2 linked regions of the Homo sapiens genome follow. The protein of the gene in region 1 interacts with the protein of each later gene in a pairwise test. Each region holds a gene or a part of one and is shown in the gene's direction. Other genes may lie near its edges.

Region 1 (4,725 bases):
GTTGACAATTTATTTGAAAGTATATTTTATTTAAAAAATCAAACCAAAACCTAAGGCTTTATTAAGATCCAAAACCTAAAGGCTTAAAAAAACAAGACTTGACACTGAGAGAAGGTAGATCTAATTTAGTGTTACAGAATCTTTATTTTGAAATTGTTGTACTTGTGAGCTGGCAACTTGTACTGACTTGATTTTTTTTCTTCCACTTAGCATGGAGGATGAAAAGGAAGATAGTAAAGTTATACCTACAGAATGTGCCATCAAGGTATTTAAAACAACCCTTAATGAATTTAAGAATCGTGACAAATATATTAAAGATGATTTCAGGTTTAAAGATCGCTTCAGTAAACTAAATCCACGTAAGATCATCCGCATGTGGGCAGAAAAAGAAATGCACAATCTCGCAAGGTAAAGAAAATATTGTGCTAGACGTAATCTTGGGTAAATACCTTTTTGCATTAGGATAAAAAAATCCATGCTTTCTTTTACATTCATTTATAGAAATAATGAAAGGCCAGGTGTATAACCTCGATTCATACTTTTAGGATGAAAAAGCCATTTTCTTTTTTCTTTCCTCAATGAAGCTTGAGGGAAATCTGGGCATTTTCTGCCTTAGACACTTTATCATATATCTAAATGCCATTTTTAAATTGCTTTTATCACGAAGTAAAACTTCCAGCATCCAATTAGGCTTAGCATAAAAAAATGGTTTCTTTTTTGTTTCAGAAAATGTTTGTTGCATTTAATTTGTTAATTTTGTGGGAGTAAGTTCTTACCAATCAAATTACATTTTGTTTTAATTTTTATACTTGTATCTGAATTTTCTAAGCAATTTATTTTCTATCAAAGAATTTGTTTTGTCAACCAAGAAATTCAGTAATAATCCTTCTCATTAAAAACCTTTCTATTATCTTAATTTATTAAAAGCTTAATTTTAGTTTGTTATTTTCTAAAGATATTTGCTTTCAAAAGTAATTATTCATATATATCAGTTACAAAATTCTTCTACTGAGAGTTCCCCACCAAAATAAGCCAGGCATGGTGTGCACGTGTACTCCCAGCTACTTGGGAGGCTGAGATGGGAGGACTGCTTGAACCTAGGAGTTCAAAACCAGCCTGGAAACGTTAGACTCCCAAGACCTTGTCTCAAAAAGAAAAAAAAATGTTTTTTCAATAAATTAATTAATTCCAGGTAGAATCATTTTCTAGAAGGTCTTGCTGTCCTCCAGTCTCTTTTCTGTACTCCTGAAATTCCTGCCTTTCTTAAAATTCTTCAACAGTTTTCCATAGTGGAGCTTGCCTGTCTTTGTAGCCTCAGCCCACATTGCCCTTCCTCCTACTCACAGATCCAGCTATGTTGATTGATATACATTCCCCAAATGGACTGTGCTCTTGAACACCTCCCTGCATTCCCTTGCACTGTCTTTATCTGGCTAATTCCTGTTCCCTACCTCTTCTTCTAATAAGCCATCCTTGGTGCTGTGTGCTCCTGTAGCTCCTACCCATACCTCTGCCAGTGCGTAATTGTAATTGTCTCTTGTCTGTCATTTCCATCAGTCCCTGAGCTCTCTATGGGCAGAGGCTGTGTTTTACTGTCTTTGTATTCCCACATCACCAGGGTAGAACATAGTGCCAGCTCATTGCAGGCCCTGATTAGATATTTATTGAATAAATGACATATTTTCTCTCCTTCTGATCTGTATATTCTGAATCATTTCTTTATGTATAGAATGCAGAGAGCTGGAATTCCTTGTCCAACAGTTGTACTACTGAAGAAACACATTTTAGTTATGTCTTTTATTGGCCATGATCAAGTTCCAGCCCCTAAATTAAAAGAAGTAAAGCTCAATAGTGAAGAAATGAAAGAAGCCTACTATCAAACTCTTCATGTAAGTTGTGCTTTTAAAAGAATTCACACACTACCTTTAAAAAATATTTCCTCTAAACTTTAAAAAAATTTCCTTAAAGAAGCCAGGCATGTTGGCTCACACTTGTAATCTAGAACTTTGGGAGGCTCAGGCAGTAGGATCACTTGAGCCCAGGAGTTTGAGACCAGCCTGGGCAACATGGTGAAACCCTGTCTCTACTAAAAATACAAAAAAATTAGCTGGGCGTGTGCCTGTAATCCCAGCTACTCGGGATGCTGAGGCAGGGGAATTGCTTGAACCAGGGAGGTAGAGGTTGCAGTGAACCAAGATTGCACCACTGCACTCCAGCCTGGGTGACAGAGTAAGACTCTGTCTCAAAAAAAAAAAAAAAAAATTAAAAATTAGCTGGGCACACACCTGTAGTCCCAGCTACTCGGGAGTCTAAGGTGGGAGGATCACTTGCACCCAGGAATTTAAGGCAGCAGTGAGCTATGATTGTGCCACTGCACCCCAGCCTGGGCAAGAAATAGAGCAAGACCCTATGTCTTAAAAAACAAACAAAAAAACCCAAGTTCCTTAGATAGTGCTATTTCAAGGTGCTATAACAAAGACAAGTTGAAGTTTGTGAAAGAATGTTAACACTGAAGAGTTGTTTTTCTATCAATATGTGTGTGTCTTAAATAGTTTTAGAAAACTTACAGACTTAACCAGGGAAGTCGTCATTGTTAGGATTAGTGACACAGTGCATGAAGCTATTTTTCACCAAACTTCATTAAATAAAATTTGCTGTTAGTACATTTAGCAAAGTGCCTCATTAGTTTGTGAGCTTTCATGAATGTTATAGTTTTTTGGGGCTTTTTTTTTTTTTTTTTTTTTTCAAATAAGAGACAGGGTCTCACTATGTTGCCCAGGCTGGTCTCGAACTCCTGGGCTCAAGTGATCCTCTTGCCTCAGCATCCCAAAGTGCTGGGATTACTGGTGTGAGCCACCACACCCAGCCATTGAATGTTACAGCTTTAACAGTGAAGGAAAGGAAGCAGGTCTGGTCTCATCATAAGAGAGTGATGATGAAAATTGAAAACAGTAGGGAGTGCAGGTGTTAAGTTGGAAGGCATGTTGGGAATCTCAAGGAAACTACATGCTTTGAAATAGCAACTGAATTCAATCTGAGGGCCTTCCAGGTTGAGACAATGCTCCTAATACTGCCATTATCCCTCTGTGTTTTAATTGAACACTGGAGAAACTTAATGTGCTACTTTATGCAATCTCCACATGAAGCTGTCATGTAATGCAGCCATTGATCTAGATATGGAAATTTTAATCCAAATTAATTTTTAAAGATATAGCTAGAAAGGTGATCCACCTTTCTCTGCCTCCAAAGGTAAACATTGAAAGGAAAATCAAGTATGTTTTTCTGGCCTCTTTGGGAGGTGGGGTGGCTGGGGAAGAGATTAAATAGTGATGAAACTTTTCTATTTAATTCTATTAAGGCTGGAAAACAAATGCATTAATGTTGATTTCTACTGTAAGACTTTGAGGGGGGCTGGGCGCAGTGCTCACGCCTGTAATCCCAGCACTCTGGGAGGCCGAGGTGGGCAGGTCACGAGGTCAGGAGATTGAGACCATCCTAACTAACATGGTGAAACCCCATCTCTACTAAAAAAAATTACAAAAAATTAGCCAGGAGTGGTGGTGGGTGCCTGTAGTCCGAGCTACTTGGGAGGCTGAGGCAGGAGAATGGTGTGAACCAGGGAGGCGGAGCTTGCAGTGAGCTGAGATCACACCACTGCACTCCAGCCTGGGCGACAGAGTGAGACTCTGTCTCCAAAAAAATAAAAAATAAAAAACTTTCAGGGGTGTCATCATCAATAATACCACTTAATTATTCATTTCCTAATGTGTGCCTTCCCTCTTCACAGTTGATGCGGCAGTTATATCATGAATGTACGCTTGTCCATGCTGACCTCAGTGAGTATAACATGCTGTGGCATGCTGGAAAGGTGAGGAGCACATTTTGTTAACATTCAGATTTAATTACTGTAAGTAAAATTTAAAATGTAAATACATCAGTTCATGTTCTGTATTGAAATAGGTCTGGTTGATCGATGTCAGTCAGTCAGTAGAACCTACCCACCCTCACGGCCTGGAGTTCTTGTTCCGGGACTGCAGGAATGTCTCGCAGGTAGACGTGTAAACCAATATGCCTTTTTTTGTTGGATGTAACAGCTGCAGGTATTTTTCTCACTCCTAAGATAAGTAAGAGGACCATATTCTTAGAAATTGAAGGAAGGGATACGGGCTGCTTTCAGGACAAGGATATAAAGATCAATTTGTCATATTTCATTTTGCAAGAATTTGATTCCATGTCTTACAGTTGGGTAAAATGTTCAAGGGGTGCCAGGTATGGTGGCTCACGCCTGTAATCCCAGCACTTTGGGAGGGTGAGGTGGGTGGATCATTTGATGTCAGAGGTTCAAGACCAGCCTGGCCAACATGGTGAAACCCCATCTCTACTAAAAATGCAAAATTAGCCGGGCATGGTGGCAGGCGCCTGTAATCCCAGCTACTTGGGAGGCTGAGGCAGGAGACTCACTTGAACCTGGGAGGCAGAGGCTGCAGTGAGCCAAGAACGTGCTACTGCACTCCACCCAGCCTGGGCAACAGAGTGAGGCTCCGTCTCAAAAAAAAAAAAAAAAAAATATGCCAGGTGCAGTGGTTCATGCCTGTAATCCCAGCACTTTGGGAGGCCAAGGTGGGTGGATCACCTGAGGTCAGGAGTTCAAGACCAGCCCGGCCAACATGGTGAAACGCTGTCTGTACGAAAAATACAAAAAAATTAGTTGGGTGCGGTAGCGTG
Region 2 (4,725 bases), on another chromosome or scaffold:
CAGGCTGGAGTGCAGTGGTACAATCTGCAGGTAGCAGCTAACTGCAACCTTGAACTCCTGGTCTCAAGGGATCCTCCTGCCTCAGCCTCCCAAGTAGCTGGGACTATAGGCATGCACCACCACACCCAGCTGATTTTGTGGTTGTTGTTTTGTTTTAGTAGAGACAGGGTCTTTACTAAATGTTGCCCAGTCTAGTCTTGAACTCCTGGACTTATGCGATCCTCTTGCCTTGGCCTCCCAAAGTGCTGGGATTACAGCACTGTGAACCACCGCGCCCAGCCTGACATTCCCATTTGAAGACACTTATTGGCCGGGTGTGGTGTCTCATGCCTGTAATCCCAGCTCTTTGGGAGGCAAAGATGGGCGGATCACCTGAGGTCAGGAGTTTGAGACCAGCCTGGCCAACATGGTGAAACCCTGTCTCTACTAAAAATACAAAAATTAGCCAGGCATGGTGTTGTGCACCTGTAATCCCAGCTACTTGGGAAGCTGGGGTGGGAGAATCACTTGAACCCTGGGGGTGGAGGTTGCAGTGAGCTGAGATCTTGCCACTGCACTCCAGCCTGGGTGACAAGAGCGAAACAAGAAAGAAAGAAAGAAAGAGAGAGAGAGAGAGAGAGAGAAAAGGAAGGAAAGAAAAGAAAGAAAGAAAGAAAGGAAAAGAAAGAAAAGAAAGAAAGAAAGGAAAGAAAGAAAGGAAGAAAAGAAGGAAAGAAAGGAAGAAAAGGAAAGAAAGAGAGAAAGAGAAAGAGAAAGAGAGAAAGAGAGAAAGGGAGAAAGGAAGGAAGGGAGGGAGGGAGGGAGGGAGGGGAAAAGAAAGGAAAGAAAAGAAAGAAACGTAAGAAAGAAGAAAAAAATTATTAATTAGTCTTAAAACACTTGCTGTCGCCAGGGAAAGGTGATGTTTCCAGGGATGGCCACAAGGTGGTGGAGTGGTACCCATGCCCAAAGTCTGGTGGGCAGTTGCCCATTTTACAGTATTGGGAGCTGGGAAAAGACCCTCAGAACCCAGGCACCTCCCAGAGACTCTGTGAGGGTTTGGGCAAAGGGTAGCTTCAAGTCATTAGGAATCTGCCTCTGGGTCCTTGGCTCCGGGATGTCTTGTATGCAAAGAGGATGGGGTGAAGTTGTGGGGTCGAGGTTAGGTGAAGTGGGGTCAGGACAGTGGGGACTGTCGCACCATCCCCAAAGTGAAGACTTTAATTTTTTAATTTTAATTATTTTATTTATTTATTTATTTATTTATTTATCTATTTATTTATTGAGATGGAGTTTCGCTCTTGTTGCCCAGGCTGGATTGCAATGGCACGATCTTGGCTCACTGCAACCTCCGCCTCCCGGGTTCATGCCATTCTCCTGCCTCAGCCTCCCGAGTAGCTGGGATTACAGGCACCCGCCACCATGCCTGGCTAATTTTTGTATTTTTAGTAGAGACGGTGTTTCACCATGTTGGCCAGGCTGGTCTCGAACTCCTGACCTCAGGTGATACGCCTGCCTCGGCCTCCCAAAGTGCTGGGATTACAGGCGAGAGCTACTGCCCCCGGACTCCAAGTGGGGACTTTCTGGCCTGAAACCCTCCTCCCCATTTCACTTGGCAGTACGAGGAGCGAGTGCTGAAAAAAATCCGCCGGAAAATCCGGAACAAGCAGTCGGCGCAAGAAAGCAGGAAGAAGAAGAAGGAATATATCGATGGCCTGGAGACTCGGTGGGTAGTGCTGGACCCAGACTCTACACTCGTGGAGGAAACTGAGGCCCAGAGAGAAGGAGATGTGGCTAAGGCCACACAGCTTAGAGTCTGACAAAATTGGAGGTGATTCTCCTCTCTGGGAGAGATCATGCTTCTTACTGATTGCAGGGATGGAAAGATGCCTAGTGATGGTGTAGGACAAGGGTTTGGGGGACCCTTTGCCCCCTAGAAGGTGTGCGGAAAAAGGACAAAGTGTGACCCATCCTATTCTGACCCTCTGCCTGAAGATAGACACTTCCTTTTTGTGTGTGTGGAAGGGTCTCCTTCTATCACCCAGGCTGGAGTGCAGTGGTGCGATCTTGGCTCACTGCAACCTCCACCTCCCGGGTTCAAGCGATTCTCCTGCCTCAGCCTCTCCAGAAGCTGGGATTACAGGTGCATGGCCACCACGCCCAGCTAATTTCTTTGTATTTTTGGTAGAGATGGGGTTTCACTGTGTTGCCCAGGCTAGTCTCAAACTCCTGACCTCAGGTGATCTGGCCGCCTCAGCCTCCCAAAGTGCTGGGATTACAGGCGTGAGCCACTGCGCCTGGTCTCTCCCCTTTCTTAAATGCAATCTGCTAAGCTCCTGATCATCTTTATCCAGGGTCATTCCCCCCACCACCCTATGTCCTGGGTAATTGTATCCCATTTTACAGACACAAAAGCTGAGATCAGAGAGTGGAGTGGCCCAAGGTCATGGGGAGAGGGAGAGATGAAACTTGAATCTCGGCCGGGCGCCGTGGCTCACACTTGTAATCCCAGCACTTTGGGAGGCTGAGGCAGGCGGATCACGAGTTCAGGAGATCGAGACCACGGTGAAACTCTGTCTTTACAAAAAATCCAAAAAAATTAACTGGGCTTGGTGGCGGGTGCCTGTAGTCCCAGCTACTCGGGAGGCTGAGGCAGGAGAATGGCGTGAACCCAGAAGGCAGAGCTTGCAGTGAGTCGAGATTGTGCCACTGCATTCCAGCCTGGGCGACAGAGCGAGACTCCATCTCAAAAAACAAACAAACAAAAAAAGAAACTTGAGTCTCCCAGGATGCCTGGTTGTCCTGATATTTCATCTTCTGGAAACATCACTGCCTGAATCTAGGAGGCTCAGCTTTTTTTTTTTTTTTTTTTTTTTTGACACAGAGTTTCATTCTTGTTGCCCAGGCTGGAGTGCAATGGTGCGATCTTGACTCACTGCAACCTCCACTTCCCGGGTTCAATCGATTCTCCTGCCTTAGCCTCCCAAGTTCCCAAGTAGCTGGAATTATAGGCGCCCACCACCACACCTGGCTAATTTTGCATTTTTAGTACAGGCAGGGTTTCACCATGTTGGCCAGGCTGGTCTTGAACTCCTGACCTCAGGTGATCCGCCCACCACGGCCTCCCAAAGTGCTGGGATTACAGGTGTGAACCACCACACCCATCCAGGGGGCTCAGCTTTGAATGAAGCCCCCTCCATATTAATGCAGAAATGGGACCTAGGAACCAGGCAGATGTGGGTTCAAATCCCAGCCCTGTCTGACCTGCCGAGTAACCTTGGATGAATGACTTCCCCTCTCTGGCCTTGGGTTCTCTTGGCTTGTAACGTGAGGCCTCTGGGGGAGATGTCAGTGGGGCCAGCTGGTGACTGGCATATGCTGAATGTCGATGCGTCTTCCTCCTTTCAGGATGTCAGCTTGCACTGCTCAGAATCAGGAGTTACAGAGGAAAGTCTTGCATCTCGAGAAGCAAAACCTGTGAGTCTGGGTCCAGCTGGGGCAGAGGACAGGGGAAGCAGCCCCAGAGTCCCTTTGCAGGAAGAGCAGAGAGCCCATGTGATGGCAGAATGACATAGGGAATAAGAGTTTTACCTATGGGCCGCGTGCAGTGGCTCACGCCTGTAATCTCAGCACTTTGGGAGGCCGAGGCGGGTGGATCACCTGAGGTCAGGAGTTCAAAACCAGCCTGGCCAACATGGTGAAACCCCGTCTCTACTAAAAATACAAAAAAATTAGCCAGGCGTGGTGGCGGGCACCTGCAGTCCCAGCTACTCGAGAGGCTGAGGCAGGAGAATTGCTTGAACTCGGGAGGCGGAGGTTGCCGTGAGCCGAGATCGCACCACTGCACTCCAGCCTGGGTGACAGAGCAAGGCTCTGTCTCAAAAATAAATAAATAAGGCCTGGTGTGGTGGCTCACGCCTGTAATCCCAGCACTTTGGGAGGCTGAGGTGGGCGGATCACAAGGTCGGGAGATCAAGACCATCCTGGCTAACACGGTGAAACCCCGTCTCTACTAAAAATACAAAAAAAATTAGCTGGGTGTGGTGGTGGGCGCCTGTAGTCCCAGCTACTCGGGAGGCTGAGGCAGGAGAATGGTGTGAACCTGGGAGGCGGAGCTTGCAGTGAGCTGCCATCCCACCACTCACTCCAGCCTGGGCGATGGAGCAAGACTCTGTCTCAAAATAAATAAATAAATAAATAAACAAATAAATAAATAAATAAAATAAATAATAAAGAGCCAGAGGCCCTTGAAGAATGGATGGAATTTGGACTTTAGCGGGGCTGGGGGACCCCGGAAATGGACGAGAAGCAGAACCGAGGCCCTTTAGGGCTCAGCGGAGGCCTGCCTGTCTCTCTAAGGTCCCTCTTGGAGCAACTGAAGAAACTCCAGGCCATTGTGGTGCAGTCCACCAGCAAGTCAGCCCAGACAGGCACCTGTGTCGCAGTGAGTCCTGGTGCCCCCAGGCAAGCCGGGGACCTAGGCTTCTGTAGAGGGGCCCATAGGGAGGTGACAATGAGTCCAAGCTCTCCTTGTGCCCCAGCTCAAGTATGATCCAGTCTGGTCTTTGGGGCCTCAGTTTCCCTGCCTGTGGGATGGAGATGCTTGCAGGGGAGGGGAGGGAGGGGGTGACTCTGCCGCTGTCTCCACCAGGTCCTGTTGCTGTCCTTTGCCCTCATCATCCTCCCCTCCATCAGCCCTTTTGGCCCCAACAAAACCGAGAGCCCTGGGGACTTTGCGCCTGTACG

The links.
Region 2: the proteins of RIOK3 (region 1) and CREB3L3 interact in a two-hybrid assay, tested with the Homo sapiens proteins (one large-scale study listed by BioGRID and IntAct).

The regions. Positions count from the first base shown.
Region 1 is NC_000018.10:23,473,219-23,477,943, forward strand, and holds part of RIOK3 (serine/threonine-protein kinase RIO3), read left to right. Parts: intron 1-210; coding exon 211-408; intron 409-1,729; coding exon 1,730-1,889; intron 1,890-3,787; coding exon 3,788-3,868; intron 3,869-3,938; exon of another isoform or gene 3,939-3,960; coding exon 3,961-4,050; intron 4,051-4,725.
Region 2 is NC_000019.10:4,166,753-4,171,477, forward strand, and holds part of CREB3L3 (cyclic AMP-responsive element-binding protein 3-like protein 3), read left to right. Parts: intron 1-1,598; coding exon 1,599-1,705; intron 1,706-3,387; coding exon 3,388-3,456; intron 3,457-4,338; coding exon 4,339-4,423; intron 4,424-4,630; coding exon 4,631-4,725. UniProt on the Homo sapiens protein: Transcription factor that may act during endoplasmic reticulum stress by activating unfolded protein response target genes. Activated in response to cAMP stimulation. In vitro, binds to the cAMP response element (CRE) and box-B element.